Regions from separate parts of the Homo sapiens genome. Here all the other regions are linked to region 3. The links come from fine-mapping of genetic effects on gene expression. A gene starts in region 3. Each other region holds a variant in brackets. All regions are shown on one strand. Distances are between the middles of the regions.

Evidence for each region. PIP is the estimated chance that this variant, and not a neighbour inherited with it, causes the effect. A credible set is the group of variants that fine-mapping cannot tell apart.
Region 1: its variant is the best candidate, but not a certain one, in a credible set for the expression of EFCC1 in breast (GTEx, PIP 0.75).
Region 2: its variant is the best candidate, but not a certain one, in a credible set for the expression of EFCC1 in left ventricle (GTEx, PIP 0.90).
Region 4: its variant is the best candidate, but not a certain one, in a credible set for the expression of EFCC1 in whole blood (TOPMed, PIP 0.53).

What each region holds. Positions count from the first base shown.
Region 1 is chr3:129,031,786-129,039,370 of GRCh38, reverse strand. It overlaps EFCC1 (EF-hand and coiled-coil domain containing 1), which reads right to left. Exons shown (of 8, transcript NM_001377500.1): 4 at 6,405-6,552; 5 at 5,042-5,207; 6 at 2,254-2,394; 7 at 471-540. Among named protein-coding and RNA genes, the nearest start is that of GP9, 25 kb to the left of the region's middle. RefSeq lists enhancers at 1-251, 252-1,227, 5,285-5,839. The variant A/C (reference allele first, on the strand shown) is at 3,427.
Region 2 is chr3:129,019,039-129,026,623 of GRCh38, reverse strand. The region is part of intron 2 of EFCC1 (EF-hand and coiled-coil domain containing 1); the gene reads right to left. It also overlaps a transcript of CFAP92 not described here. Among named protein-coding and RNA genes, the nearest start is that of EFCC1, 22 kb to the right of the region's middle. The variant C/T (reference allele first, on the strand shown) is at 3,760.
Region 3 is chr3:128,996,477-129,004,061 of GRCh38, reverse strand. It overlaps EFCC1 (EF-hand and coiled-coil domain containing 1), which reads right to left and starts at 2,758. Exons shown (of 8, transcript NM_001377500.1): 1 at 1,738-2,758; 2 at 1-268. The coding sequence starts at 2,433. It also overlaps a transcript of CFAP92 not described here.
Region 4 is chr3:128,953,583-128,961,167 of GRCh38, reverse strand. The region is part of intron 9 of CFAP92 (cilia and flagella associated protein 92 (putative)); the gene reads left to right. Among named protein-coding and RNA genes, the nearest start is that of CFAP92, 37 kb to the left of the region's middle. The variant C/A (reference allele first, on the strand shown) is at 3,329.

The DNA of each region.
Region 1 (7,585 bases), 35 kb before region 3:
CCAGGCATAAGCTGGCATTCCTGCTGTTCTGCTCCCTGAGCTTCGTCTAAACACCGGGTCCATGTTATTGAGTGCTTAAGGGAGATGCCCCAGCCTCGGGCGTGGCCAGCACTTGACCCCTGTGCCTCAGTCTCTTCCTCTGTGGAAAGGGGATAACAACTCATTCCTTCTAGGGCCATTGTAAGGATTCAGGGGTTTAAAAACCCTTGGGGCACCTCCCCCGCATGTGGCTGCAGTGCTGCCGGTGGCGCCCACCCATCCCCTCACTGGGCTTCTGTCTGGCACTTCTGCCTGGGGCTTCTGTGCCTCTGCTCTTGCTAAAAGCCCCTTCAGCTTTCTAAAGCATGCAGGGCAGGAATAACATGATTGTTTTGCAGACAAGATGCTAAGCATGAAGCACACTGGAGTCTCCTCCTCAGGACACCCTCCAGCCACTGCGTGGGCTCTGAGAGACTAGGGTGCTCTCCTACCGTGGGTGGGGTCCCTGAAAGCGTCCAGCGTGCTCAGCAAAATCTTCCCCAGGGCTCTTTTCGATATGTTCTTAAAAAGAAATGGAAACAAGGCTGGATTAGACTGGTTGCTGTGTCCCTGTTCAGCCGATGGGAACTGGTGGCCCCTACGGGCTTCTAGGCAGCTCCCTGGGGACAGATAAAGCTCCTCCCCCACCCTCATCGCTTCTTGGCCCCCTACCCCTAGGCTGGCCACACTGCACTTCCCAGAGACTCTTGGAGGGCGAGTGGGGCAGTGGGCAGGATCCATGCCATCAAAGATCACGTACCTAAGGATTACCATCTGTGCCCAGGTAGACACTGAGAAATAACCCTAAGAGCATTTTAATGCATTTGCTCATTTGATTTTTGCAACAACTTATTTTATTATGCCCATTTTAACCAGCAGAAAAAAGCAATGCTGGGAAAGAATGCGAAATTTGCCAAAGCCACCCAGCTGGGAGGTGGAGGGGCTGCATCATCTACCGTGAGGCTGCATGGCCTATGGCCTCTGCTGGGAACCACTGCCCTTGCCTGCCTGGGCTAGGATTGGCCTCTTGGGGCCCATCCCCAGGTCTCTGCTTGCCTAGGACGTGGACATTGGGCTGGACCTCGGCAGCTCTGGGTCCCAGGCAGCCCAATGCACAGGGCACAGCCCACTTCAGAGCCCCACAGACCTGGGTCTTGCTTTCTTTCTAGTCCTTATAGCCTTTCTCTTTCCTTTTGCTGCACTGGATGGAACCTCTGCTTCACATGAAAACAGTGATGACAGGCATTCTTGTCTTGAGTCTGATTTTAATTTTAATTTTTTTTTTTTTTGAGATAAGGTCTTACTCTGTCACCCAGGCTGGAGTGCAGTGGCACAATCTCAGCTCACTGCAACTTTTGCCTCCTGGACTTTGGCAATCCTCCCACCTCAGCCTCCCAAGTAGCTGGGACCACAGGCATACACCACCATGCCCAGCTAATTTTTTTTTTTTTTTTGTAGAGGTGGGGGTTTCACCATATTGGCCAGGCTGGTCTCGAACTCCTGAGCTCAAGCGATCCACCCACCTAGGCCTCCCAAAGTGCTGGGATTACAGGCATGCACCACCAGGCCCAGCCACATCTGATTTTAGGGGGATTCCTCTGAACACGTCACCAGTCAGTGTGAGATCTGCATGAAGTATTTGGTTGAGAGCCCTTATCTGGTGAAGGAAGATCCCTACTATTCTTAATTTGCTGAGGGGTTTTATAATCAAAGGAGATTGAATTTTATTGACTTCCTTTTCTGCATCAATTGAGATGATCATTTGGTCTTTCTCCTTTAATCTGCAATGTGGTGTATTTTGGTAATAGATTTTTTGATGTGGAATCATCCTTGAATTTGTAGGATAAGTCCAACTTGGTCATGTTGCATTTCTTTAAACACTGCCAGATTTGGTTTGCTAGTATTGTATTTAATAATTTTGCATCCATGTTTAAATGTCACATTAGTTTATAATTTTCCTTTCTTGTCTTTCTTCCATTTATCCTTTTCTGGTTTTGAGAACAGAACCAGAAAAGGATACATACAAGAGTTTTATTAGCTTCTTAAAATGACCTGGGGAGCCCCCCAACCCTATTTTTGGTTGGTTCTTCTGAGCCTCCATTTCTGCATCTGTAAAATGGGATAACAGCTGCCTACTGTAAGGAGAGCCTAGAGCCTGGTGCCTGACACAAGTGGGGCTCCCTCCCAAGAGCTCCTTTCCCTTCCCTGAGTGTGGCAGCTCTCCCGTGAGCCTACCAGGTCCCGGAGCCTCTGCAGGAGCTGCAGCACGTCCACCAGCTTCTCCTCCAGCAGGGACAGCCGCACCCTCTCGGTCTCTACCATCTGCAGCTCCAGCCTCAGGTGCTCATTCTCTTCCACCTTCTGCTGCAACTCTGCCTGGGAAGAGAAGGGGCTCAGTGCTCACTTTGCTGGCCTCTCCCAGCCTTCCAGGTGGCAGGATCAACTACTCCATCTCCCCGAGGCTGGTGCTGAGGCCCAGAGAAGCTGAGTGTGTGGCCTAAAGCCACACAGCGGGTTGGACTGATGTAAGAGTTGTATATTTTGTTTCCCACTCTAAGGACTCCATTCTCCCTTCTCTTCTCTGGTTTTGTTTCTTTCAAACAAATTAAGTTTAGTGGGAAGCTGCAGAAGCCAATCTGGCTAGCTTACACAGAGAGGAAATTTATGGCAGGCTAGTGGGCAGATCCCAGAATGGACTAGCAGCTGGAGAACCTCAGGAATGGGACAGGGTTGAGACAGTGGGAGTGTCCCAAGCCTCTTATCCAAGAGCCACAGCCGAGAAAGACCCTCTCCAGCCATCCCCATCCCCCAGCATGGAGAGCCCCAGGAGAGGGGCGTGGTTGGCCCAGTCGGAGTCTTGGGCCCACTCTTGGCCAGGGGGCCACCTAAACCGTCAGTTGTACCCAGTAACACTAGGATGCCAGGCAGTCACAAAGTGTTTTGTGGCCCCTGCCTTCTAAAGCAGGCATGCCAGGCACGAGGCATTCCCTTCCCCTGGCACCAATGGAGGGAAAGAGAAGCAGTGGAAAGTGTGGTGCCTGAGGGCACTCAGGGTCCACCCTGGGCTTGGGCAGGAAGAGGGAAGGCCCAGTGCCTCTGCTCTTTAGGGATGTGACTGGAAGGCCAGCTAATTTTAGGATCCTCCAAGCCCTGTTTCCTTTAAATATTCTTAGAAAAGGGGTGGCTATGCCCTTCAGAACTTTGTGACTGCCAGTTTATTTCCTGATGGCCCACAACACTCCACCCTCCCCAGCCACAGGGCTATGACTTTCCTGAGGGGTGCCTGGGCAGGCAAGATCAAGGCCTCCAGGAAACCAGAGCGGTGGTGGAGAAAATGTAGAAACAACTTTCAACTTAGGAGACCTGCACAACACAGAAGAGTGCTAGAAACAGGGACAGCCGTGGCGC[A/C]TGTTTGCTGAGCACTCACCACAAGTGTTCACCTGTTTGATACATGTGTATAGTACCATTATTATGCCCATTTCACAGGTGAGGAAACCGAGGCACAGAAAAGTTGAGTAACTTTTCCAAGGTCACACAGGAAATGGAGTCAGGATTTGAATCCCGGCAGTCTGGCTTCAGCACATAACCGCCATGCCATGCTACTTGGTGTTAGCAGCCTTCTCTGGGGAGTAAGTGAGGGGTGGCCCTATCCCGGTGCAAGGGTTCCAGAAGCTGGAGGTGGTGCAGACCCGATCTCACTGGAAGGTTTAGCTGCAGCCACACTGGCTTGCCCTGTAATGACATTCAACTTTGTTTCCTTTTGCACATTTCAGCAGAATGTTTGCATAGTCCTGGTCTTTGTCCAATCTACTGCAGCGCTCCAGGGCCTGCTACCTTCTGTCTTGGTCTCTGATTTCATGCACTAAGAGGCTGGAGCCCAAACAGGCCCCTCTGCTCCCTCCTGCCCCCAGTGACTCAACCCCTGGCCTCAGGGTGGAGTGGTGTGGCTGCCTTGGTTCAAGGTGGGCACACTGGCGTGGATGCGGCATGGGCTCCCAGCCCAGCCCATTTGACCTCTCTCAAACTGTTTCCTACCTCATTGGGCCCTTTGAACATAAAATAAGACAGAGCACATCAGCACCGAGCGTGTGGTTCATGGGTTGTACAAGTCAGCTGGTATCATTTTTAAAAAGTTATTTAAGGAACTAGGACTTCATCAGGCCATATATAAGTAAAAAGCAGTACAGACTTAGAATTTCAGATGTATAAATATAAAACTATGTCAAAACCAGTTTGTAAAAGCACAGTGGGCTAGGGCTTAGTGAAATGACAACTTTCAACAGCATTGCACACTTGGCTACTGTGGAATAGAGACTTTCCTATGGAGTAGAGAGAATGAGAAATGCGAAGTGGTCGTATTGAAATGGAGACAGCTGGATGCTCGGCCCCCCTTTCCCTCTTCTTCCTACCACACTTCCTTTCTTTTGGGAAACTGCCCCTGCTCCACTTCATCTGACTTTGGTGGCAGTGCCAATCACTGAACCCGCCCCACCACCACAGGGATTGGCCCAGGGACGGGCACATGACTGAGGTGGCCAATCGGAGTTCCTCCCTGAGATTTCATGTACTAGGAATGAGACTCATTTTCCTGTGAGGGCTTCCCAGGTGGGCTGATGGAAGTCTAGGGCTGTTCATGGTCCTGTCTTCCCTTCCCCCATCATATGGAGTAAGCCCTTTTGAACTAGGGGAAAGTGAGGCCACCTCCTACAGAAAAACACAGCAGATAGATGGAGACAATCTGGTCTGAGTCCCTGGACCCAGCTGTGCCTGAAGCCCAGACCATCTTCTTCTCAGCTCCATGTTCCAATATCTGTTTTGCAATCAAGCTAATTTGAGGTGGGATCCTTTAATTTGCAACCAAAATATTTCTTATTAAATTTAAATCAGAGGAAATCACCTCCCTCTGGGCCTTGGTTTACTCATCTGGGAATGAGGCACAAGACTTGGCTGCAATCCCTCAGACCCTTCCAGCTGTGAGATCCTCTAGAATTGCTCCAGCCTTTGATCTCTAGGCTCTGCTGACCTCCTCCTCAGAGGTCCCCAGGGTCCTCCCACCGCAGCCCTGAGTCCTCAGCTGCTCCACCAGCATGGCAATGCAGGCCTCCAGCTCCCCCAGGGTATGGGCATGGTTGGCACCGCCGAAGTGACCAAAGTAAGTCATGAGCTTCTCCGCCGTCTGGTCATCACACCTGCAGCAAAGGAGAGGGCCCGCATTGCAGGGGGCTGCTTCCCAGAGCCCGCTCTGTCCAGCCTTGGAGAGGTGGTGGTGGTGTGGAGTTGGCCTCCTAAAGCAAAGCCAGGCCACGGCACCTGCCTGCCCAGTACCCTCCCATGGCCCCCATCTCACTCTGAGGAAAAGGCAAAGGCTTCACCTGATCTGCCCCATGAGCTCTCTGACCTTCCCTCCCACCCACCTGCACTCACACTGCTCCAGCCACAGTGGCCTCCTGGCGGTCCCGCCAACATGCCTCAGGGCCTCTGCACTTGCTCTTCCCTCTTCCTGGAATGCTCTTCCCCCAGCATCTGCATTGCTTATTCCCTCATTTCCTTCCCTGCATCTCCCTGCCCCGCCTCTGTCCCTGTCCCTGTGTGACCCCTCTTCCTCAGGCCTGTCACACTCACTAGAGGATCCAGAAGAAGAGGCCACTGTCTGGTTTACTGCGATTTTCCCTGTGCCTCAGATTTTGCCTGGCATGTAGTAGGTGCTTTATAAGTGCTTGTTGACATGAAGAATTGGTGGTAAAAACAACCCCAGAAAATCAACAGCATTTTACCATACATTAATAACTGTTGCCCCCACCGGCGTTCCCACCTACTGTGCACCAGGCACCTGTTAGGCATTGTATATCTTTGACCTCAAATCCTCACACAGCCTCTGCCACACAAGTGTCACCATCCCATCTTAGAGACAAGAAGACTGAGGTTCGGAGAAGCCAGGTGACTTGTCTGAGGTGTCCCAGGTGTCCTGGGCCTGTCCTCGGTCCCCATGGGGGTGGAGGTGAGGATGAAACAGGGAGCCAGCACCTGCCCGGGGCCAGGCTGGAGAGCTGTGGAAATGGTGTGTGGCGAGGGGTGATGGGTTGGGAAAGGGTCTGAGAGGAACACTGGTGTCTGGGAGTGCTACAAGAGCTCCAGTGCAGGTGCTGGTGAGAAAGCACGAATGGGAATTAAAGCCAGCCACGAGATGTGCCCTGGAAGGTCATCCCACTTCATCCTCTACATGCTGGTGGGCCTTCCCACCTCCCCCTGAGGGACAAGGGGACAGAGTCGCAGAGGGGCTGGGAGGTGGCTGAGCCAGGCTAACCAGCCTCCCAGGTGCTCCTGGCTTCCCCAGACACCTCTGGAGCCTGCGGCCCACAGTGGCTGACGCTGGACGGGCCACACACCTGCCTCTGCAGCTGGAGAGCCGGGCCAGCAGTGTCTTGGCCTCGGCTGCCGGCGTCTTCTTCTCCTCCTGCCACCTCTCCTCCTCCACCTCCTCCTCGTCAGAGGCGGCCTGGCCCTCCACGGAGCGGAACAGCTGCTCGTCCACTGCTGGGGAAGCACAGGATGTGGGGATGCAGGACAAAGGGTGGGGAACCAGGCATCCCTCCCCAGGGGGACATGTGCAGCGCAGCCCCAGGGGAGGGCTCTTGTGCCATGTCCCCTCTTGAGACAGCCACCCCCACATCCCAGGCTCCTGTGCAGTGAGGCCACCAAGGCTGGTTCTGTCTCCTTGTAATGTGACCAGCCCAGGAGTGAAGCTGGCCAGTCAGAGCCCCTTCCTGGGACTTTACACAGGGACATGGGGAGAAATGCTCTCTTTTTCTTCTCTTTCTTTTCTTTTTCTTTTTTTTTTTAGAGACAGGGTCTCGCTCTGTCACCCAAGCTGGAGTGCAGTGGTGTGATGATAGCTCACTGCAGCCTCAAACTCCTGGGCTCAAGTGATCCTCCTGTCTCAGCCTCCCAAAGTGTTGGGATTACAGGCATGAACCACCGTGCCTGGCTTCTTCCCTGTTTTCTAAGATGACACAAGCCAGGCCCTGTTTGTGGTCTCAGAGGTAAGTGTTATTTCCATTTTAGGCCATACCAACCCCAGTCAGGAAAGGCCAAGCCAGTCTCTTAGGAGCTGGGGTGGGCTCCTCACGGTACAGGCACCAGGATGGACAGATTTTCAATGCTCAGGGAACTACAGGCGTCTAATGTTTGGAGTAGTGTGGAGGAAGGGGGTGTGACACATGTGACTGTCTGCGGTCCACAGTATTGCTTGGCCTTGACGGTGGGCTCCCACCTGTGTCAGCATCAGGAAGCCTGGGGGTCTGTGTGGCCCCCTGGTGTTCTGCTGCCCAACCTCAGTCCCCATCCCCGTCCCCAGGGGAGTCCCACTCCCTCCTCTTCCTCTCCACCCAGCTCCAGGGGCACTTGAGTCAGGCCCGGCCAGGCTGAGTGCAGCCTCCTCTGCAACTAGTTCAGGAAGGGCAAGGGACCCAGTGGGAGCCACTGGAGTTAACCCAAGACTTGGACTCAAAACTTGCAGGGAAGAGAAATGCCCTCCATGCTTCTGGCTTGGGAGTTGAGAGGACCAGGC
Region 2 (7,585 bases), 23 kb before region 3:
GAGGTGTTTAACTGGGGTGAGACAGCAAAGATGGGAGTTGGTAATCAAAGGGAGGCGATTTTAGCTCACTGGGAGGAACAACTTTCTCGCAGGAACTGCTGATGAAGAATGATGGATGTGCTGTGGAAGGCAGTGAGCTTCTTGGCAGAGGAGGTATGTCAGCAGGTAAGGGACTTCAGCGGCTGGAATTGTGAATACAGTTGGAGGTTGAATTAGACATTAATATTGAAATCTTTCCACTATGAGATGCTGCTGCTTCTTCTATTCCCTAAATCATTTAAGGGTTTCAACAAGCAAAATGAGATGGAGGGACAGCTTTTACCCCCAGGGGCCTGTTTAAATGTTTCCTGGCACAGGCTGCCTGGGGTGGACTGGATCCCCACACTCCACCTCCTAGCACTTGCATGTGTCTTAGAAAGCCTGCTCCAGGCACAGCTTCCTGCACGGACAGCAACGACAATACCAACTAAACCCTTCAGAATGTTCTGAAAGCTGTTCTCAATATTTCAAACATCTTCCTCATGAAAACCCTATAACAGGTAAGGTCATTATCTCCATTTACAGAGGAGGAAACCAAAGCACTAAGAGCTGGAGGAAGCTGCTGGAGCCGCACCGCGGGAGAGGTGGGGTCTGCACTCAGGCGGGAGGCTCCAGGCCCACATGCCAGGCACAAGGGAAGCTTGGAAGGCAGGCTCTGGAATGACCCGGCCCAGCTGCCGTTGTCAGTGGGTAACTCCAGGTCACAGGCAGTGAAGCTGGGAAGAGAACAGAGCCATCTGGAGAGCAGGACAGATGAGGACACTCTTTGGAATTTTCCAAGAAGTAAAATGTGGCTACAGAGAAATGGAACAAGTGCTTCCTCAGGGAGCCCTGGGGTGTGCTACTGTTGTCTAGTGACCAGTATTCAACTGCTTCTCCCATTGCCCCTCTCTCTGCTGGATTATTCAGCAGATCAGCCACCCCTCATCACACTCACATGCTATAATAGCTCCACCTTCAAACAAGCAAATACACAAAACATCCTCTGACCATATGACTTTCCCAGCTACCACCCTTACTCTGCCCTACTTGACAGAAAACTTGAAAGCACTGTGCCTACTACACATGCTGCCCCAATCATGTCTTGGTCCCCGTCACATCACCCACGGCACTGGGCTGCCAAGCCCAATGGCCAGTTCTCAGCACGCATTTGACTTGGCCTAAAGAGAAAGGATTGGACATCAGATTCCTCCCTCGCTTACACACTCTTCCCGTGGCTTCCGGGAGACTGCTCTCCTCTGGGATTCCTCCTGCCTCCCTGGCACTCTTCGCCATTTTGCCTCTCCGTCCCGACCCCTAATGCCGGTGAGCCCTGGGATGCCCTCTGAGGACCTCTTCTCTCCTCAGTGTGCACTCGCTCTAGGAGGAGTCTCAGCCAACGCCATGGCTTTGCGTGCCCATGACTTCCTACTTCTTATCTCCAGCTCTGGCCTCTCTCTTGAACCTCGGGCTCAGATCCAGTTCCTGACAAGCGCCCGAACTTAACTGTGGCACCTCTATTTGGATGTCCCACAGGCTTCTCACAGCCTCTCATGCCACCTGGACTTGTCCTGGTCTTCCTCCATCTGCTCCTCCCTCCCTCAGTGAAGTGTGCCATCACCCACTTGACCACCCAAAGAGTGGCCGCTGGGTTTGGCTCCAGCAAGTAGTGCCCAGAAAATCCTCCTGGTTCTTCGTTCTCCCACCCCAACAAAAATGTCACTTTCTCAGAACTCACCTCTCCCTCTGCTATGGTTTGAATGTGTCCCCCAAAGTTCACGTGTTGGAAACCTAATCCCCAATGCAACAGTGTAGAGAGGTGGGGCCTTGAAGAGGTGATCAGGCCATGAGAGCTCTGCCCTCACGAGTGGATCCACACCATTACTGCAGGAGTGGGCTCCAGATACAGGAATGCGTTTGTCTCCCTCTCTCCCTCTTTTGTTCTTCTACCTTCTTCCCTGGAACGGTGCACCAAGAAGCCTATGGCCAGATGTGACATGCCCTTTACTTCCCAGCCTCCAGAACCCTTAGCTAAATTTCTGTTTTTCTTTTTCTTTTTTTTTTTCTTTTTTTTTGCGACGGAGTCTTGCTCTGTCACCCAGGCTGGAGTGCAGTGGTGCAATCTCGGCTCACTGCAACCTCTGCCTCTCAGGTTCAAGTGATTCTCCTGCCTCAGCCTCCCGAGTAGTTGGGACTACAGGTGTGTGCAACCATGCCTGGCTAATTTTGTATTTTTAGTAGAGAAAGGGTTTTACCATGTTGGCCAGGCGGGTCTTGAACTCCTGGCCTCAAGTGATCTGCCTGACTCGGCTTTCCAAAGGTGCTGGGATTACAGGTGTGAGCCACTAGACCCAGCCCCAAATTTCTTTTCTTTATAAATTACCCAGTCTGTGGTATTCTGTTACAGCAGAACAAATAAATATGAATAAGACACCTCTCCTGGCTCCTAGAGCCCTCGTGTGGTGTGTTATGGTGTTTCTCTCTCACCAGACTGGGATTTCCTTGAGGACAGTTAGCACAGGGACTGAGTGGCCCAATGAAGGTTTGTCAAATGAATGAATGGGATTTAGGGGTGGAAGTGCAAGGAAAGGCCAGGCCAGGGACAAGACCAGAGCCTGGGTAAGCATCCAGTTTACTCCTATCACCTATTCACCTGCTCTTGGATTGTTCCAGAAAGGACAGAGAAGGAAGAGCACTAGATCTGGAGCCACAAGACATGGGTTGAGTCCTACCATTCCCAGTTCCTATCAGCTTTGTCCTGTGGAATGGGGCTAAGCCCTCTGTGCACCTCAGAGAGGGGTGGACCCTACGTGATAGGATAATGCAGATTCCTAAGCTGCAGACATTTTTGGTCATTTGTCCTTTTATTTACTAATACATATTTTATGTAGTGGTAAATATTATAACCAATAATGAAAACCCAGCATCTCTTGCCATAAATAGTAACCATTGTTAAATTTAAGAATCAAGAGGTGGCCAGGCGCGGTGGCTCACGCCTGTAATCCCAGCACTTTGGGAGGCCGAGGCGGGTGGATCATGAGGTCAGGAGGTCGAGACCATCCTGGCTAACATGGTGAAACCTCGTCTCTACTAAAAATACAAAACCAAAATTAGCCAGGCATGGTGGCGGGCGCCTGTAGTCCCAGCTACTCGGGAGGCTGAGGCAGGAGAATGCCGTGAACCCAGGAGGCAGAGCTTGCAGTGAGCCAAGATCGCACCACTGCGCTCTAGCCTGCACTCTAGCCTGGGTGACTGAGCAAGACTCAAGACTCTGTCTCAAAAAAAAAAAAAAAAAGAAGCAAGAGGCCATTAGCCTGAGGCTGTCTCTGTACTTTGAGTGATGATCTGAAGCCGAACTTAGTATGTGAAGAAATCAAACTCTAATTTAGAAGCATATATTTGTAACAAATAGCAGGCTGAGCTCCCCAAACCTCTGCTGTCCCTGACAGCTGCCCAATTCATGACTTGTTCTTTACTCAGATAAACTCTGTTAAATTTAATATGTCTAAAGTTTTCCTTTTAACACCCTAAAAATACATAAAGCAAGAATGAAACACAGTTAGTCAGTTCTAGCTAGATCTTATTTTCTGTCTGCCTCTGAACCCGAGGCTGTTCTCTGTCCATTCAAGAGAGGCTAGCAACTGTGAGGAGAAGTTGGAGACTTCTCAGCTCCAAACCACAGCTTGGGAACCGGTGCTGGAAAAGTATGGCAAAGGCCCAACCTCCCTGCCCTGTGCTTTC[C/T]GGCCCGCGACTCCCACATTCACCCCTGCCTGCCGCACTTCTGGGCCACTGTCTTTCGGGAGCCATGGGGGAAATGGTCTGGGGGCCTTCTGTGAGCTGCAGAGACACTTGTCACTCAACAGGCATTACTGAAGCACCTCTGTCAGGGCTCCAGGCAGTTCTGGGGAAAGGCAGGCCCCAGTAGCCACCCACCCTCCCCTCACACCCTCACTTCCTGGCAGACCCCAGAGTCCTTGTGTGCGGTTGGGTGTTCCCTCCAGCTGGCCACATCTGCACAGCATCCGGAGGCCGGGTGAGCCTCTGATGTCTTCCTCCTGCTGGAGGCTGATGGCCACATCTGGCCGCCAGCCCAGGGGCTTATACAATCTGACAAGGGCCAGATGTTGCTCTTCCTCCCTTCCGCTGTCCTGGCCACTCCTGGCTCCTGGCTCCAGATCTTCATGTAACAGACCCCTCCTTCAGTTCTGTGATGCAAAGAGGTGGATCTGAGGAGCCGCAAACCTGGGTTCCACCCTCAGGACTGTGGCTTTGCTGTGTGACCTGCACAACTCCCTCCCCGTCTCTGAGCCTCTATTTCATTTTCCTCATTGATTAATCAGTCAACACTGCTGGGGACTCTGTGCTAGCTGGGCCTGGCGGTCCTATGAGGATGAAATGAAATGACATGGTCCTTCTAAACTTTGTGGAGCTCCTGCCCCTGGTAATATTTGAAAATAATACAGGTTCTATATAGATATGACAAAAAAATGACATTGATCCTAGAGGATCTGAAGCTTGGTAAATGCTTAGACACCAGCACACGGTGAGTTCTGGGTGCTGTGAGAGCAGAGCTCTGCGCCTGCCCCGGCCACCTCTGCCCCTCACAGCAGAGGACCCCAACCCTAACACACTGACGCCCTCTTTCTACAATGGCCCTGTGCTATTCCAAAATGAGCTGAATACGTAATATGCCCTATTTTCAGATGTACTTCAAAAAAAAATTAATGTGATGCCCTAATGGTAATTTAAAAGAGAAAGAAAAGGAAAGGAGTTTTATGATATACATTTCAATATGTAAATACTCACAAACAATGAAATTTTCAGATACTTTAACCTGTCTGTGATGGATACATTTGAATTTAAGAGGGGCAAGGTAACATTCAACTGAATGTTGTTGATAATCTTTCCCTATATTTGGCATTTTAAAATATCCAGATTGATAGATGGATTGATAAATAGACAGATACCCGCGCAGACTCACAGTACAAGCATAAGGACTGCCAGTGTTTTTTGTTTGTTTGTTTGTTTTTTGAGACGGAGTTTCAATCTTGTTGCCCAGGCTGGAGTGCAATGGCATGATCTAGTCTCACCACAACCTCCGCCTCCCGGGTTCAAGCGATTCTCCTGCCTGAGCCTCCCCAGTAGCTGGGACTACAGGCCAGGCATTCCCTGCCAGCAGCTTAAGCACCATGAGTTTTGTCACTGTCTTTGATGTGCCTCTGAAATGATGAGCAACTCTTGGAAAATGCCAAACAAAACAAAGTGTGACCTTCCCTCAACTCACACAGCATCGGATTCTTGGAAAACCCTTTGTATATTAAAACCTTGTGGAAAACCCTGTGTTTATATATAAGACAGAGGTGGGCTCCAGTCTCAGATCATCATGACGAAAGTGAGGTTTGCGCAGCATAAATGTCCAGCAGGACACATGGAGCTCATGTGGGGTTTGGGGTGATGCTTGGTCATACAGGATCTGCCCAGAGCCTTGTTTCCCTGGCAGGGCCCCTCATGTGTCAGGAGCACCACCCTTCCAGTCACTGAGGCAAACCCTCCTCCCCACGAATTTCCAGAAAGTCCTGGGGGAGATACTGCTCCCAAGGAGATGCCCTGTTCCAGACCCCTCCCAGCTCTCATGAGGCCTTACATCCCACTGGCCACGGCAGCCTCACCCTGGGACTACGAGGTGCCCACCCCTGTGGGTTTGGACTTGGAGGCTGCCAGGTCAGCACACTGGACCATGCCCCAGCCTTCAGAAGGGTGGTGTCCAGGGTTCCCGTCTGCAAGTGCCCAGCCAGCCTGTAACCTTCCTGGCTCCCTCCCCTGGAGCCTCTGGGCTCACAGAGCCTTTTGAGAAGGGCATCTGGCCTGTGTCTGTTTAATCCTGGGCCAGCCACTCCAATAAGCGTGCCTTACCAAGTCTTTCACCTCTTTGAGACTCAACTTTCCCATCATTTTATTATTTATTTATTGAGACAGGGTGTTACTCTGTTGCCCAGGCTGGAATGCAGTGGCGTGATCTCAGCTCACTGCAGCCTCAACCTCCCAGGCTCAAGTGATCCTCCCACCTCAGCCTCCTCAGTAGCTGGGACCACAGGTGCAGGCCACCATGCTCAGCCAATTTTTGTATTTTTTGTAGAGATGGAGTCTCACTATGTTGCCCAGGTTGATCTTGAACTCCTGGGCTCAAGTGATTCACCCATCTCGGCCTCCCAAAATGCTGGGATTACAGGTGTGGGCCATCTGTCCAGCCTTCCCAATCTTTTAAATGGGAGTAAGTCACCCAAGCTCATAGGGTGCAAGTCAGGGCTAAATTAGGGATGTATGTGCCTGGCACAGAGTAGGCACTTAACAAATATTAACTCCCACACTCTGTTTACAGCTTCCTGCTTGTTCATCTTTCCTTTTCTGTTTCTCATTTTACCCCCTAAAACCTCAAATAAATGCATAAATTTCTGCAGTGCTGTCCTAGTGTTTTAATCTGGCCTGCATCGTCCAATATGGTAACCACAGTCACATGTAGCTATTTAAATTTAATCAGGCTGGTTGCGATGGCTCATACCTGTAATCCCAGCACTTTGGGAGGCTGAGGTAGGTGGATCACCTGAGGTCAGGAGTTCGAGACCAGCCTGGCCAACATGGTGAAAACCTGTCTCTACTAAAAATACAAAAATTAGCCGGGCGTGGTGGTGGGTACCTATAGTCCCAGCTACTTGGGAGGCTGAGGCAGGAGAATCGCTTGAATCTGGGAGGTGGAGGTTGCAGTGAGCTGAGATCATACCATTGCACTCCAGCCTGGGCAACAAGAGCGAAACTCAGTCTCAAAAAAAAAAAAAAAAAAAAAGTAAATTTAATCAAAGTTAAATAAAACTAAGAATTCAGTTCCTCAGTTATGCTAGCTACATCAAGTGCTCAGTAGCTACCTGTGGCTCACAGCTACCAGTGCAGCCAGAAAGCGTTTCCATCATCTCATAAAGTCCAGTTGGACAGTGCTGATCTACAACTTATATTAAAAGTTAAATAGTTTACAGTCATTTTTCCCAGAACTGTAGTTCTCTCTTGTTTGTACTACAATTATATGAATCTAGAATGTGACTGTTTATATAAACACAAAATATATACAAGTGAGGGTCCTGCTGCGGTCTCACATCCTCAAAGGAATTATTGGACTGATGAGCAAACCACTAAGACAAACACTGATGAGTGGACTGACTGGGCTTCTAAATCCCATGTGAGTGAAGGTAGCCAGCCCTCGCTAAACCTAAACCTACCCAGGACAAACTTAAAGCTGGGTCCCTGTCTTCATCACCCAAAAGGGTAGACTCCAGGTGGACTGAACACCTAAAAGATACAATTAAAACAAAAGAATATCCAGCAGAATACCCTTGTGACCTAGGAACGGAGGACCACTCAAGAATTCAAAGGCAAAAATCATAAAGCCAAAAGAATTTGGTGAACCTGATTACATCAAAGAACACACTGGGGCCAGCTGGCATCACTTGGTCAAATCATTTATGTGTCTCCACAAGACCCAGCAACCCCTCTCCTGGGACAGTTCTCACAGCAGGCT
Region 3 (7,585 bases):
CCGCCTCCAGCCGCCGCACCCAGCGCTGCAAGCCGGGCACCTGTTGCGCCAGCGCCTCCAGCTCTCGCACGCGGTGCAGGCTGCGCAGCACCACCTGCCGGGCCTCCTCCGCGCGCCGCCGCACCTCGGCCTGGCCACGGCGCAGCCGCCCAGCGCGGGCCTCCGCCGCAGCCAGGGCGCCCTGCGCCTGACGCAGCTCCCGCACCGCAGCCTCCGGCCCGCCGTGCCCCATCTCGTGGGTGCTCGCCTGGCTCTTCCAGAGTCCGACCTGCGGGGACAGGGCAGCAGGGGCAGGGGGTAAGTGCCCCAGCCAGATGCACCAGACGAACGCCCGCCACGACGGCGGCCCCATGCCTCTGCACCCAGAAGCGCTTGAGCACGTTTCTTGCGCCGTCTGCTTCCGGGTGCCAGGCCCTTAGGTCCGGTGCGTCCAAGCTCCTTTAACCCTCGCCACATCCCCAGGGAGGCCCAAGCTCTGATTCCTCCTCATCCCCCACCCCCCAACGTTTTTTCACTGAAGGAAACTGAGACACGACGCCTGTATTCTGTTCCCTCTATAGTACCAACCTCGCGACTCTTCTCGGCCTACTGTATTGGCGGCGTTCAGCCTGCCGGGTGGCGGTTCCTCATCTCCTAGACTCCCCCCAGTGGCATTTCCAGCCCTCCCCGTGCCTGCTCACTAGAGGCTTTTGAGGGTGGTTTCTATCTGTCTTTACTGGTGTGTTCCCAGAGCCTAAAACAAACCTGGCACATAGTAGGTGCTCAATAAATACCAAGCATGAGAGATGCCGGAAGACCGTTCAGGCGCATCCCATGGCTCCCAGTACGTTACTTGGGATTCCACATCAGAGGAGTAGTTTCCCGCCTCCACCCTGGCTTCCATGCACACTGACACTGAAAACCACACCTTGCCACTTCCCTGCACTCTGCAGTGTCCTGAGCTAAGGCGGGGTCATATAATGTCAGTTTCTTCCTGGCCTGTTGTCGCCTGGGGTAGGGGCTGTTCCTTTCCTCCTCTGACCCCTGCGGCCCAGCACTGCCCTTGGTGCTCGGCTGGCACAGTGCTTAAGTGTTTGTCGACGGCTCCCAGATGCTAAGGCTGGGTCCCTATCTCACCCCATGGTTTCTTCTCAATAGCCCAGAGCGGGTCTGGTTCCCGCAGGCACTTGGTGGCCCGTGAGTGCCTGATCCACAGTGTGAGCCACATTGTCTGTTTCTCACTTGTCTCTGTTTCTCCCACAGGGAGCCCCATAAGTCTTTGCTGATTGACAGAAGGAGCTGTCAGTCTACCCCAGGAGGCAGGGATATCCCTAAAGGTGAGGACAGGGCCTTCTTCACACTTCTGTCTCCTAAACCTCCCAGAAGCCTGGCAGGAAGGAGAGAGAAAGATGCTTGTTGAAAGGGAATATGTGAGACTACCCAGACAGGTGCAATTCCTAGGTTAAAGGGGCAAGACGCGATGATGTGGCGGTGGAGCAGAAAAGTGGGGTATGGTTGTTTGAGTGTGATTGGGGTTTTCAGGAATGGAATAGGTGGTAAGAATAGGGTTGGGGACTGGAGTGGAATGGGGAGGAACAGGGGCAAGATGCAAGTGTGCTGATGCGGAGTGGGATGGTGTGGGGCTGCCCTCTGTCTCCCCTTCCTCTGACTCTGTCCTGTCGGGCTCCGCAGCCAGCCAGCTTTTAGTTCGAGCCCTCTCCCGGGCGTTACCACCCTCCCTTCGTGGCCGGCGCGCACCTGCAGTGCTAGGCAGCGCGCATCACTGCTCTGCAGCGCGGCGCGCAGGTCCTCCACCAACTCGCGCAAGCTGCTATTCTCCTCCTCCAGCCGCGCAACGCGCTCACAGTCAGGACCGCTGTCGGGGCCAGGCGCGCAGGGCGGGCGGCGGCGGCGGCGCGGACGGCGCAGGCGGATCTGCGTCTCGATGTGCTCGCTGAGAGCGCCGCGGGGCAGCCGGGGCCCCGCACGGGTGCCGAAGTAGCCACAGAGGCGCGCGTGGAACTGGCGGAAGGTGAGCTCCGGCGGCTCGGCGCGCAGCGCCAGGCGCGCCTCTTCATCGGTATCTGAGTCCCCGTCCGTGGCCAACTCAGCGGCCGCATCCCCGGGGGTCACATCTCTGGAGTTCCCGTCACCTGCTGCCTGCCCGGCCGTGGTGGCCCCCTCCGCGCGCAGCCCCAGCACAGCGCAGAGCGCTCGGAAGTCGGCGCGGGGCAGACGGCCGGCGCCGCGGCAGTCCAGGTGGTGGAAGACCTCCTGCAGGTACTGGTCCAGGCCGGTGGCCAGCACCACGATCTCGTTCTCCACGCCGCGGTCCAGCCCGTAGTGGTGCGCCAGGGCGCTCAGCAGCCACTGCGTGCGCCGCGCAGGTCGCCGGTACGGGTCACCTCCCGCGCCCTCCATGCCGGCCTCCGCGCCCGTGCTGACCGGCTCCATCGCTGCGCCGCGCGCCTCGCTCCTCCGGTCCCTCCTCCGGTCCCTTCGCCCCGCCACTTCCAGGGGCGGCCCCAGAGTTTCTCGAAAGGAGGGGCTTAGCGGTCGCGGTCTGGTTGGAGCGGCGCCGGGGACCGTGTCCAGCAGCTGCGCTGGCCTCACAGTGCGTCTGGTTTACCCCAGTTGCTTTGGAGGGGCCTGGGGTAGGGGGTCCAGGAACCCCCGGGACCCCGGCAGCGCCACCAGTGCCCGGTCGGCGTCTGGGTCTGGCTTCTCCGCGTGACTCCCACGCTCTCCTCTCCTCACTCACGGGGCGTTCCTGGCGTCTGCGCTTTTCCTCCCACTCCCGGCCGTCCACTCTCAACTCCCTCCTCCCTCCGCCCCGCCCGCCTGGCGCGGAGAGTTCGCTCCGAGACCTGGGCGAGGGGTTGGCGCGGGATCCGAAGCCCAGGAGGGCCTTGGGGGTGGCGGCCTCGTCCGGTTGCTGGGGATGTGCCCCCACACCCAAGCGTCACTCTTCCCCCTCTTCCCGGAAGGCCTTTCGAGGGTTGCCTGGCAAGCCTGCTCTCGCCGCCCTGTAGCCGTAGGTGCGGAAAAGCCTCCCCTCCGCTTCAATTCAGCTACTGGGTTTCCGAACCCACTTCTTGTGCCACCATAGACCGTGCAAAGAGCCCCAAGTAGTAACTGGGAAAGAGAGGGAAACAGGCTTGGAGAGGCAAGGGGTCTAGGTTAGGGGCACCCCGCTGGTGAGAAGCCCATCTGAGACGAGCCCTGTGCTAACTGCTCTCTCCCGATCCCTGTTGGGGGTGGGGATAGGACTCTCGGGAAAGTGGTGTCTCCCGGCCCTGCCACCTTTGTGCCTGCCGGTGCTGACTTGGCAATGGGATCCGAGTTCCATCTCTTGAGCTGGGGTTAGGTTAACAGGTCGATGATTGGCTGATGTTTTTTTCTGGTGTTTTAGAACACATTTCTGGAAGATGAAGAAAAACCTGCTTCTCTGGTGAGTGCTAGACTGTGTTCCCTTTCTTTTTCACGAGAGGGGTGCAGTGATATTGTGATATTGTCCACCTGTTACCTGCACCGGGAACGGTTATCCAGCCACGGTACCCAGCCATGTTGGAGCAAGAGGCAGACTCTTCAGCTGTTCCTAGCTATGACAGAGACAGAATCTTGCCTTGTGGATAACTCTGTGAGTTTAAATGTAAAATCTTGCCGTTTGAAAAGCGATAGCATTCTGTCTCCTCTGCCACAGTATCCCAGAATCAGCACGTTGTCCATTTGGCAAATTCGTACTTGTTCTTGAAGGCTTTGCCCAGAGTACATATCTGCTGGGAAGGAGTTAGAGGCTTCTCCCCAAGCATTTTGGACATATTCTTTTAGGTTTGTTTTTAATTATAAAAGTAATGGCAATTTGACAAAGTTTTTACATCACGTCCACTTCTTGGCTTCTACCTTCGAAAGCCACTGTGCACAGGATGTTCACTGCATCATTGTTTATTACAGTGAGAAACTGGAGACAACCTGGTGTCCATCAAATCAGCTAGGACTCAGCAAACGAGGATGAGCGGACACAGCAAGCCACAAGCTGATTATGCACAACACTGATGCTTACATAACAAGAACAAAAACACACAAAACAATACTAAGTATTTTCTACTAGGACATGTGTATGTGAGTGCACAGAAGAAGATGGAGGGATTCATAAGTGGATTCAGTGGTTCTTTCTGCAGATGGGAGACACTGCAGTATTTCCCTTTTGTTAAGATGTTCTCATGTGTTTCTTTTTCTTGGCCGGTCGCGGTGGCTCACGCCTGTAATCCCACCACTTTGGGAGGCCGAGGCGGGTGGATTGCCTGAGGTCAAGAGTTCGAGAACAGCCTGGACAACATAGTGAACCACCCCCATCTCTACTAAAAATACCAAAAGTTAGCTGGGCGTGGTGGCAGGCGCCTGTAATCCCAGTTACTTGGGAGGCTGAGGCAGATGAATCGCTTGAACCTGGGAGGCGGAGGTTGCAGTAAGCTGAGATCCTGCCATTGCACTCCAGCCTGGGCGACAGAGCGAGACTCCGTCTCAAAAAAAAAAAAAAAAAAAAAAAAAGAACCTGATTTTATTTCATGTCAGCCCTAAGAGCTGGTAGCCCAGGCAAGAGTGCAACACCCTCCCCACCCCCCATCCCTGCAGCTGGTGAAGGAATCCTTTGAACAGTAGCTTTCCTGGGCCAGTCAATATTGAAAAGAAAGCTTTTAAATGTCTTGCTGGGAGCCGTTGCCGGCCTCCACTCCCCTACAGCTCAGGGAAGTAAGGGTTGATAATGGTTTGCTGTCAGGCCTGTCTGTCTGCCCTGCGGTGTTACCAGGCACCTCTGAAATAATTCTGGTTGCATCCACAAGGTTTTTGTTTAAGGTTCAAAGTGAGCAAACTCAGAGGTCTCCTTGCGTTCTTTTGTATGAGCTGGGGGGATGGGCGTGTGTCTGTGTGGGAGAGAGTCAGGGCTGTGGCAAAGAAATGATTTTCTGAAGTCAGTTCAGTATTGTTTGAGCCATTTCAAATAGTATATTGTTTAAAGTGTCTTTTAAAGGTCCGGGAAAATGCTAAAAAGCAAAAATCATCCACCATTCTGCCACCAAGAGAGGATCACTGTGTATTTCTGATGTATTTATTTCCAGACTTTTCTATGTATTTGGGCATGAAAGAACTTTTTGGAGTGATTGAAATACTCTATCTTCATGGTGTAGTGGTTGCATGACTGTGTACATCTGAATTTTACAGTGTGCAAATCGTAGCTCATTCAACTTGACATGAAAAGCACAGTGGAAAGGGCGCCATTGGGATCTTTCTTTGCACAGGAACTGAGCTTTGTAAACAGCTTGGCTGTGGTTTCTTTGCAGACACTGCTCCAGAGGCTGCTCTGTGCTCCCTGGGGATGAACTATAAGGTGCTTTGTCATCCCCCACAGATGCCCACTGAGGTGGTTTTCAGCTTTTCTCCGCAAAAACCATACTGTGAACAGTTTGTGCCATATCTTGAGTGATTTATTACTGGGCCAAGGAGTATACATATTTTATAAGCTTGTGGTATTATCAGCCTGTTTTTTGGAAACTTGTGTTGTTCTATCCAGAGCCCAGAACTGTCTGGGAATGTCCTTGGGCCATTATTTTCAGTGTCATAAAGCTTTTGGGTTTTTAGGGGTCTTGGTTAGTAGATTTGCTTAGTGTTCAGACACCAAGCTTTACTTCTATTAAAAATAGGCCTGTTGTTAGTCAAAGATTTCTTAGATACGACACCAAATGCATGATCCAAAAAAGAAAAAAATGATGAATCGGACCTTCATCAAAGTTCAAAACATTTGCACTTCAAAAGACACTATTAAGAAAATATGACGAACAAGAGACTAGGAGAAAATATTTGTAAAACATATGCCCAGTAAAGGACTTATATTCCGAATTTACAATGAACTCTTAACAACTCAGTAACAAGAAGACAAACAATCCAATCAAAAAGTGGGTGAAGATACAAACAGACATTTCACCAAAGAAGTTGTATAAATAGCCAACATGTGCATAAAACAATCTCAGTATTCTTGTTAGGGAAATGCACATGAAAACTATGATGAAATACTATATTATACTCATGAGAATAGCTGTAGTGAATAAAACAGGCAATAAATCTTGTCAAGAATTTGGAGAAACAGGAAACTTCATGTTGTTGATGGGAACACAAAATGATGCAGCCCCTGTGGAAGATAGTTTGGCAGTTTCTCAAGAAGTTAATCACAAAATGACCATACGACCCAACTCTTCCACTCCTAGATATCGACCCAAGAGAGATGAAAACACATCCACACAAAGACTTGTGTGGGAATGTTCATAGCAACGTTGTTCATAAATGTCTAAATGCCCAAGCCAAATGCCCATTAACTGATGAATGGATAGGCAAACTGTGGTCTGTCCATACAATAGAATATTATTCAGTCATGAAAAGGAATGAAATACTGACACATGCCTCAACATAAATAAACCTTGGAAACATAACGGTAGGTGAAAGAAACCAGTCACAAAGCCAGAACACAGTGTCTGACTCAATTTATAGGAAATGTCTAGAAAAGGCCAATTTTTAGAAACAAAGTAGATATGGTTGCCTAGGACTGGGAGTTGGAACAGAGATTAATTATAAATGTGCATGAAGTCTTATTAGGGGGATGAAAATGTTCTAAAATGAATTTATGATGATGATTACAGCACTAGGTAAAGTTACTGAAAATCATTGAATTCTACGCTTGAAATGGATGGATTTTATTAAATAAAAAATACTTCAATAAAGCTGTTAAAAATGGGGAAGGGGCAAGAAGAAGGTGTATGTAGCTGATTCCCAATATGCTTCCAGCTGCCAGAGTCTTGGGATAGCTTCAGGAAGGCCTCTACATAGCCTGTGGGAGCTTGGGAACCCTCCACCCGGCAGAGTAAGGATGAAGGGATGGATTGTTCAGTGACCTTGAACACCTCCTGCCCCTGGATGCTTGTCCCTCTGCTTACCAGATGTACAGTCCATGTCTTCATCCCCTTGAAGTGGGGCCAGCCTCATGACTTGCTTTGGTTAATGGCATGTAGCAGAGTGACATGGTGCTGGTTCCACGCCTAGGTCCCAAGAGGCCTTGCAACTTCTTCTTTGCCCTCTGGGATCCCTGCTCTGAGAATGCCATCTGAGGAAGCCAGGCCGGGCTATGAGGAGATGAGGCACCACATAGAAGGAAGCTGGTGTACCACTGGGGGCGGGGGAACCCATGGAGGGGAACCAGCGGGCCCACGAAGAGCCAGCAGCAACTGCCAGACATGCAAGTGAGGACTTCTGGCAGCTTCCAGCCATGTTGGTCCTCCAGCTGAGCACAGCATAGGGAGTGAGCCCAGGCGAGGCCAGCAGAGAACTACTCAGCTGATGCATGGAGTGGTGAGAAATAACAAGTGTTTGTTTGACACCATTAAGTTTGGGGATGGTTTTTACTCAGTAACAGATAACTGAAACAGAAGCCCCCCTTCCTTTGCTTCTGATCTGCCAGCCCTGAAGCCATCTTCACTGAGGTAGGGTTGTAGACCCACCACTGTCTCATACCTGAGTAGTGGGTAGCACACCTTTGCCCTCACTTCATCCTGTGATG
Region 4 (7,585 bases), 43 kb after region 3:
AAATTTAAAGTGCCATTTTCTGGCTATTTGGAACTACTGTTGAGTTTGTATTGGGGTCAAGCGGCATTGCAGAAGAAAATAAGGCATTTAGGTTTTAGGTCAGGTGTGAGTTGAAGAGGTTTTAAGTTCTTGAGCACACAGGCTAAGGGAGAAGGAGGAGGAATGGAGGGTGGAAGGTTGCCCATAGTGAAGGAAGCAAACCCAGAGAAAAGAGAGCATAGAGACCCGGAGGGAAGGGGTTTGGGGGTTCTTGCCCCCTAGAAAAGCGGGACTTGCCGCTAAGGGTGAAGGAGAAGGGGTTGAGGGGTACTTGCCCCTGCCCCAGGAAAGTGGGACTTGCCGCTGAGGGTGAAGGAGAAGGGGTTGAGGGGTACTTGCCCCTGCCCCAGGAAAGCGGGACTTGCCGCTGAGGGTGAAGGAGAAGGGGTTCACGGGTACTTGCCCCTTCCCCAGAAAAGCGGGACTAGCCGCTAAGGGTGAAGGACCAAGGCAGGCGTCCCTGCGTGGTCTGACACCCTTGAAACGTGGGTGTATAATCAGAGAGCGTCCCTGCAATGATTAAACACCAAGGGAAGGCTGCCTTCCCAGTCCGTGACCGGCGCCGGAGTTTTGGGTCCACGGATAAAACGTGTCTCTTTTGTCTCTACCAGAAAATGAAAGGAATTGAAATTAAGGGAGAGATTGAAGTGTGGCACCAAGATTGAAAGGAGAAAGAGGTTGAGGGATAGTGAGGGAGGTTGGAGAAGAGAGTCAAAAGAGGCCGCTTACCGGATTTGAAATTGGTGAGATGTTTCTTGGGCTGGTCGGTCTGAGGACCTGAGGTCATAGAGGTGGATCTTTCTCACGGAGCAAAGAGCAGGAGGACGGGGGATTGATCTCCCAAGGGAGGTCCCCCGATCCGAGTCACGGCACCACATTTCATGCGCGTCCGTGTGAAGAGACCACCAAACAGGCTTTGTGTGAGCAACATGGCTGTTTATTTCACCTGGGTGCAGGCGGGCTGAGTCCGAAAAGAGAGTCAGCGAAGGGAGTGGGGCCGTTTTATAGGATTTGGGAAGGTAATGGAAAATTACAGTCAAAGGGGGTTGTTCTCTGGTGGGCAGGGGTGGATCTCACAAAATACATTCTCAAGAGTGGGGAGAATTACAAAGAACCTTCTTAAGGGTGGGGGAGACTACAAAGTACATTGATCAGTTAGGGTGGGGCGGGAACAAATCACAATGGTGGAATGTCATCAGTTAAGGCTGTTTTTATTTCTTTTGTGGATCTTCAGTTACTTCAGGCCATCTGGATGTATACGTGCAAGTCACAGGGGATGTGATGGCCTGGCCTGGGCTCAGAGGCCTGACAGTTATCACCTGTATTTTACCATTTAGGATCCCACAGTGAGATACAAAAGAGATGGGGTTCCTGGGATTAGGTGTGACCAGTCCTGAGGTCTCCTACTATGCCGCAGGTGCTCTTCACATGCAGGTCATGAACCTCCCTTCAGGAGCCCCCAGGCTTCCCTCTTCCTGTGGCAGTTGCCAGCGGGATGCTCACTCATTGTGAACCAACCAGGTTCAGCACTGCTGTTTATTCTGTGAGTTCCTTGTTCCCTCTTCTGGTTGGATCCCTGTCTCCTGAATTCTCTCCCTTTATTTGCTGTCTGGTTTTGCTGGAGTGCATCCTCTAGTAGCTTCTCGAGAAAAGGTCAATGGGAGATTTATTTTTGAGATCTCATATGTCTGCAGATATATTTTTTTCTACCTTTTTTTATCCTTACACATGACTGGTAGTTTGGCTGCATATAGAATTCTAGGCTAAAAATCATTTGCCTTCAGAGTTTTGAAGGCATTGTTCCATCATCTTTTATTTTCATTGAAGTTGAACCTTTGTATGCGAACTGTTTTTTGTTTCTCCAAATGCTTATAAAATCCTTTTTGTCGTCTTTTTTATTTTATTTATTTATTTATTTGAGGCAGAATTTTGCTCTTGTTGCCCAGGCTGGAGTGCAGGGGTGCAATCTCAGCTCACCACAACCTCCACCTCCTGGGTTCAAGCGATTCTTCTGCCTCAGCCTCCCGAGTAGCTGGGATTACAGGCATTTGCCACCACGCCCGGCTAATTTTGTATTTTTAGTAGAGACAGGGTTTCTCCATGTTGGTCAATCTGGTCTCAAACTCCTGACCTCAGGTGATCCACCTGCCTTGGCCTCCCAAAGTGTTGGGATTACAGGTGTCAGCCACTGCGTCCAACCTTGTCTCCTTTTTTAAAAAAATTTTTTTGAGACAGGGTCTCACTCCACTGCCCTGTCTGGAGTGCAGTGGTGTGATCATAACTTACTGCAGCCTCAACCTCCTGGGCTCAGGTGATCCTCCTGCCTTAGCCTCCCTAGTAGCTGAGACTGCAGGCACACGCCACCACACCCAGCTAGTTTTTGTATTTTTTGTAGAGACAGGGTTTTGCCATGTTGCGCAGGCTGGTCCTGAACTCCTGGGATCAAGTGATCCTCCTGCCGTGGCCTCCCAAAGTGCTAGGATTATAGGTGTAAGCCACAGTGCCAGCCCTTTTTGTCTTCTGAAACTGCTTGTGTGTCTTAGTGTGAGTATGTCCATATACATATGTCATACTTTAAAATATAGATTCACGGAAAGTTGCAAAGACAGTACAGAGAGGTCCCATGTATCCTTTGTCCAATTTCCTCAGTAATTAGGTGTTTCATAACTATAGCACAATATCAAAATCAGCACATTGACATGAGTCTAATGTGTATATAGGTCTGTGCCATTTTATTGTACATGTATGTAACTGTCACAGCACTTGAGATGTAGAAATATTCTATCATCACAAAGATCTCCTTCGTGCTACCCTTTTATAGTCACAACAACCCCTAACACCCACCATCCCTAACCACTAATTTGCTATCTCTATACTTTTGTCAATTTGAAAATGTTATTGTTAAGGATTGAATTGTGTTCCTCCAAAAAATGGTATGTTGAACTCCTAACGCCCAGTATCTCAGAATGTGATCTTATTTGGAAAGAGGGTCTTTGCAGAGGTAGTCAAGTTGAAATGAGGTCATTAGGGTATCCTTATGAAAGGGGGAAAATTGGACCCAGAGACAGACACACGTAGAGGGAAGACTATGCAAAGTGACACACAGAGAACGCCACATGGAAAGTGGATGCTGCCACATGCCAGGGGACATCTGGGGCCACCAGAAGCTGGAAGAGGCAAGGAAGGACCTTCCTGAGCACCTTCTGAGGAAATGTGGCCCTGCCAACAGCTTAATTTCTGACTTCTAGCCTCAGAACAGGGAGACAATAAATTTCTGTCATTTTAAGCC[C/A]CCCCCCAGTTTATGGCGCTTCGTAGGAAACTGGTGTGGTTATATAAATGAAAACATCCAGCATGTGACCTTTTGAGACTGGCCTTCTCCCCCACTCCAGGATAATGGCCTTGCATGTAGTTTGGTCATGTTTCTTTATTTACTCTGCCTTTTAATTGACGTATTTAGACCATTATATTTAGAGTAAATGTTGATATATTAGAGCTTAAGTCTACCATTTTAATTTTTGTTTTCTGTCTGTTCCTTCTGTTTTTTTGTTTCTCTTGGTTTTTATTCCTGCTTTCTTGTGGGTTACTTGACCCATTTTTAGAATTCCATTTTGATTTATCTGTAGTATTTTTGAATTTATATCTCTTGGTATAGATTTTTAGTGGCACTCTGGATATTATATTTAACGCATAACATAACTTTTCGCAATCTCTTGGTATCAATATTTTACCAGTTTGAGTGAAATATAGAAACTTTACCTCCCTCCATACCCCTTTAGTTTCCCTAAATATTTCCTCTACATAGATTGATAACCACATGAGATGATGTTATACTTTTTGCTTCAACTGTCAAACATAACACATAACCTAGAAAACTCAAGGGTTGAAGGAAAGTGTATTTGTTTACCCGTGGTTCTACTTATTCCATTATCCTTTCTTCCTTTCTAATGTTCCAAGACTTCTTTTGTCATTTCCTTTCTGTTTCAAGAACTTCCTTTCGCCTTTCTTCTAGGATAAATCTGCTGAAAACAAATTCTTTTAGTTGTTCTTTGTCTCAGGGTGTTTTTATTTTTCCTTCATTCTGGAAGGATAGTCTTACTGGATATAGAATTGGTATAGAATGGGGTTGATTTCTTTTTTTTTTTTTTTTTTTTGAGAGAGTCTGGCTCTGTCACCCAGGCTGGAGTGTAGTGGCATGATGTTGGCTCACTGCAACGTCTGCCTCCTGGGTTCAAGTGATTCTCCTGCCTCAGCCTCCTGAGTAGCTGGGATTATGAGCATGCACCACCATGCCTGGCTAATTTTTGTATTTTTAGTAGAGACAGAATTTCACCATGTTAGCCAGGCTAGTGTCAAACTCCTGACCTCAGGTGATGCACGCACCTCGGCCTCCCAAAGTGCTGGGGTTACAGGTGTGAGCCACTGTGCCTGGCTGGATTTTTTTTTTTAACACTTGAAAAATGTTATACCACTTTCTTCTTACCACTACAGTTTCTGATGGGAAATCTGCTGTCATTCAAATTACTTTTTTTTCCCTATAAGTAAGGTGGCATTTATCTCTTGCAGCTTTCAAGATTTTCTTTCTTTGTCATTAATTTACAGAAGTTTGACTATGACATGTCTTGGTGTGGATTTCTTTGTGTTTATCTTATTTGGGGTTCTCTCAGCTCTTTGAATCTATAGGCTTATGTATTTTGCCAAATTTGAGAAAATTTTAGCCATTATTTATTGGAATACTTTTCAGCACCACCTTTTTTCTCCTCTCCTTCTGAAACTCCAATGACATGAATATTAGTTCTTTTGTTTTAGTCCCACAGGGCCCTGAAGTTCTGATTTTGATTTTTGTGTCTTTTTTCCCCTGTGTTGTTCAGATTGGGTAATTTCTTTTTTTCTTTCTATTTTCTTTTTTTTTTTTTATTTTTTTATTTTTTTTTTATTTTTTTTTTTAATTTATTTTTTTATTGATAATTCTTGGGTGTTTCTCACAGAGGGGGATTTGGCAGGGTCATGGGACAATAGTGGAGGGAAGGTCAGCAGATAAACAAGTGAACAAAGGTCTCTGGTTTTCCTAGGCAGAGGACCCTGCGGCCTTCCGCAGTGTTTGTGTCCCTGATTACTTGAGATTAGGGATTGGTGATGACTCTTAACGAGCATGCTGCCTTCAAGCATCTGTTTAACAAAGCACATCTTGCACCGCCCTTAATCCATTTAACCCTGAGTGGACACAGCACATGTTTCAGAGAGCACAGGGTTGGGGGTAAGGTCACAGATCAACAGGATCCCAAGGCAGAGGAATTTTTCTTAGTGCAGAACAAAATGAAAAGTCTCCCATGTCTACTTCTTTCTACACAGACACGGCAACCATCCGATTTCTCAATCTTTTCCCCACCTTTCCCGCCTTTCTATTCCACAAAGCCGCCATTGTCATCCTGGCCCGTTCTCAATGAGCTGTTGGGCACACCTCCCAGACGGGGTGGTGGCTGGGCAGAGGGGCTCCTCACTTCCCAGTAGGGGCGGCCGGGCAGAGGCGCCCCTCACCTCCTGGGCGGGGCGGCTGGCCGGGCGGGGGGCTGACCCCCCCACCTCCCTCCCGGATGGGGCGGCTGGCCGGTCGGGGGGCTGACCCCCCCACCTCCCTCCCGGACGGGGCGGCTGGCCAGGCAGAGGGGCTCCTCACTTCCCAGTAGGGGCGGCCGGGCAGAGGCGCCCCTCACCTCCCGGACGGGGCGGCTGGCCGGGCAGGGGGGCTGACCCCCCCCCACCTCCCTCCCGGACGGGGCGGCTGGCCGGGCGGGGGGGCTGACCCCCCCACCTCCCTCGCGGACGGGGCAGCTGGCCGGGCAGAGGGGCTCCTCACTTCCCAGTAGGGGCGGCCGGGCAGAGGCGCCCCTCACCTCCCGGACGGGGCGGCTGGCCGGGCAGGGGGGCTGACCCCCCCCACCTCCCTCCCGGACGGGGCGGCTGGCCGGGCAGGGGGGCTGACCCCCCCCACCTCCCTCCCGGACGGGGCGGCTGGCCGGGCGGGGGGCTGACCCCCCCACCTCCCTCGCGGACGGGGCGGCTGGCCGGGCAGAGGGGCTCCTCACTTCCCAGTAGGGGTGGCCGGGCAGAGGCGCCCCTCACCTCCCGGACGGGGCGGCTGGCCGGGCAGGGGGGCTGACCGCCCCACCTCCCTCCCGGACGGGGCGGCTGGCCGGGCGGGGGGCCGACACCCCCACCTCCCTCCCGGACGGGGCGGCTGGCCGGGCGGGGGGCCGACCCCCCCACCTCCCTCCCGGACGGGGCGGCTGGCCGGGCAGAGGGGCTCCTCTCTTCCCAGTAGGGGCGGCCGGGCAGAGGCGCCCCTCACCTCCCAGACGGGGCGGCTGGCCGGGCGGAGGGCTGACCCCCCCACCTCCCTCCCGGACGGGGCGGCTGGCCGGGCAGAGGGGCTCCTCACTTCCCAGTAGGGGCGGCCGGGCAGAGGCGCCCCTCACCTCCCGGACCGGGCGGCTGGCCGGGCGGGGGGCTGACCCCCCCACCTCCCTCCCGGATGGCACGGCTGGCCGGGCGGGGGGCTGACCCCCCACCTCCCTCCCGGATGGGGCGGCTGGCCGGGCGGGGGGCTGACCCCCCCTCACCTCCCTCCCGGACAGGGTGGCTGCCGGGCGGAGATGCTCCTCACTTCCCAGATGGGGTGGCTGCTGGGCGGAGAGGCTCCTCACTTCTCAGACGGGGCAGCTGCCGGGCGGAGGGGCTCCTCACTTCTCAGACGGGGTGGTTGCCAGGCAGAGGGTCTCCTCACTTCTCAGACGGGGCGGCCGGGCAGAGACGCTCCTCACCTCCCAGACGGGGTCTCGGCCGGGCAGAGGCGCTCCTCACATCCCAGATGGGGCGGTGGGGCAGAGGCGCTCCCCACATCTCAGACGATGGGCGGCCGGGCAGAGACGCTCCTCACTTCCTAGATGTGATGGCGGCTGGGAAGAGGCGCTCCTCACTTCCTAGATGGGATGGCGGCCGGGCGGAGACGCTCCTCACTTCCCAGACTGGGCGGCCGGGCAGAGGGGCTCCTCACATCCCAGACGATGGGCGGCCAGGCAGAGACACTCCTCACTTCCCAGACGGGGTGGCGGCCGGGCAGAGGCTGCAATCTCGGCACTTTGGGAGGCCAAGGCAGGCGGCTGGGAGGTGGAGGTTGTAGTGAGCCGAGATCACGCCACTGCACTCCAGCCTGGGCACCATTGAGCACTGAGTGAACGAGACTCCGTCTGCAATCCCGGCACCTCGGGAGGCCGAGGGTGGCGGATCACTCGCGGTTAGGGGCTGGAGACCGGCCCGGCCAACACAGCGAAACCCCGTCTCCACCAAAACCAGTCAGGCGTGGTGGCGCGTGCCTGCAATCGCAGGCACTCGGCAGGCTGAGGCAGGAGAATCAGGCAGGGAGGTTGCAGTGAGCCGAGATGGCAGCAGTACAGTCCAGCTTCGGCTCCGCATGAGAGGGAGACCGTGGGGAGAGGGAGACGGAGAGGGAGGGAGAGGGAGAGGGAGAGGGGGAGGGAGAGGGAGAGGG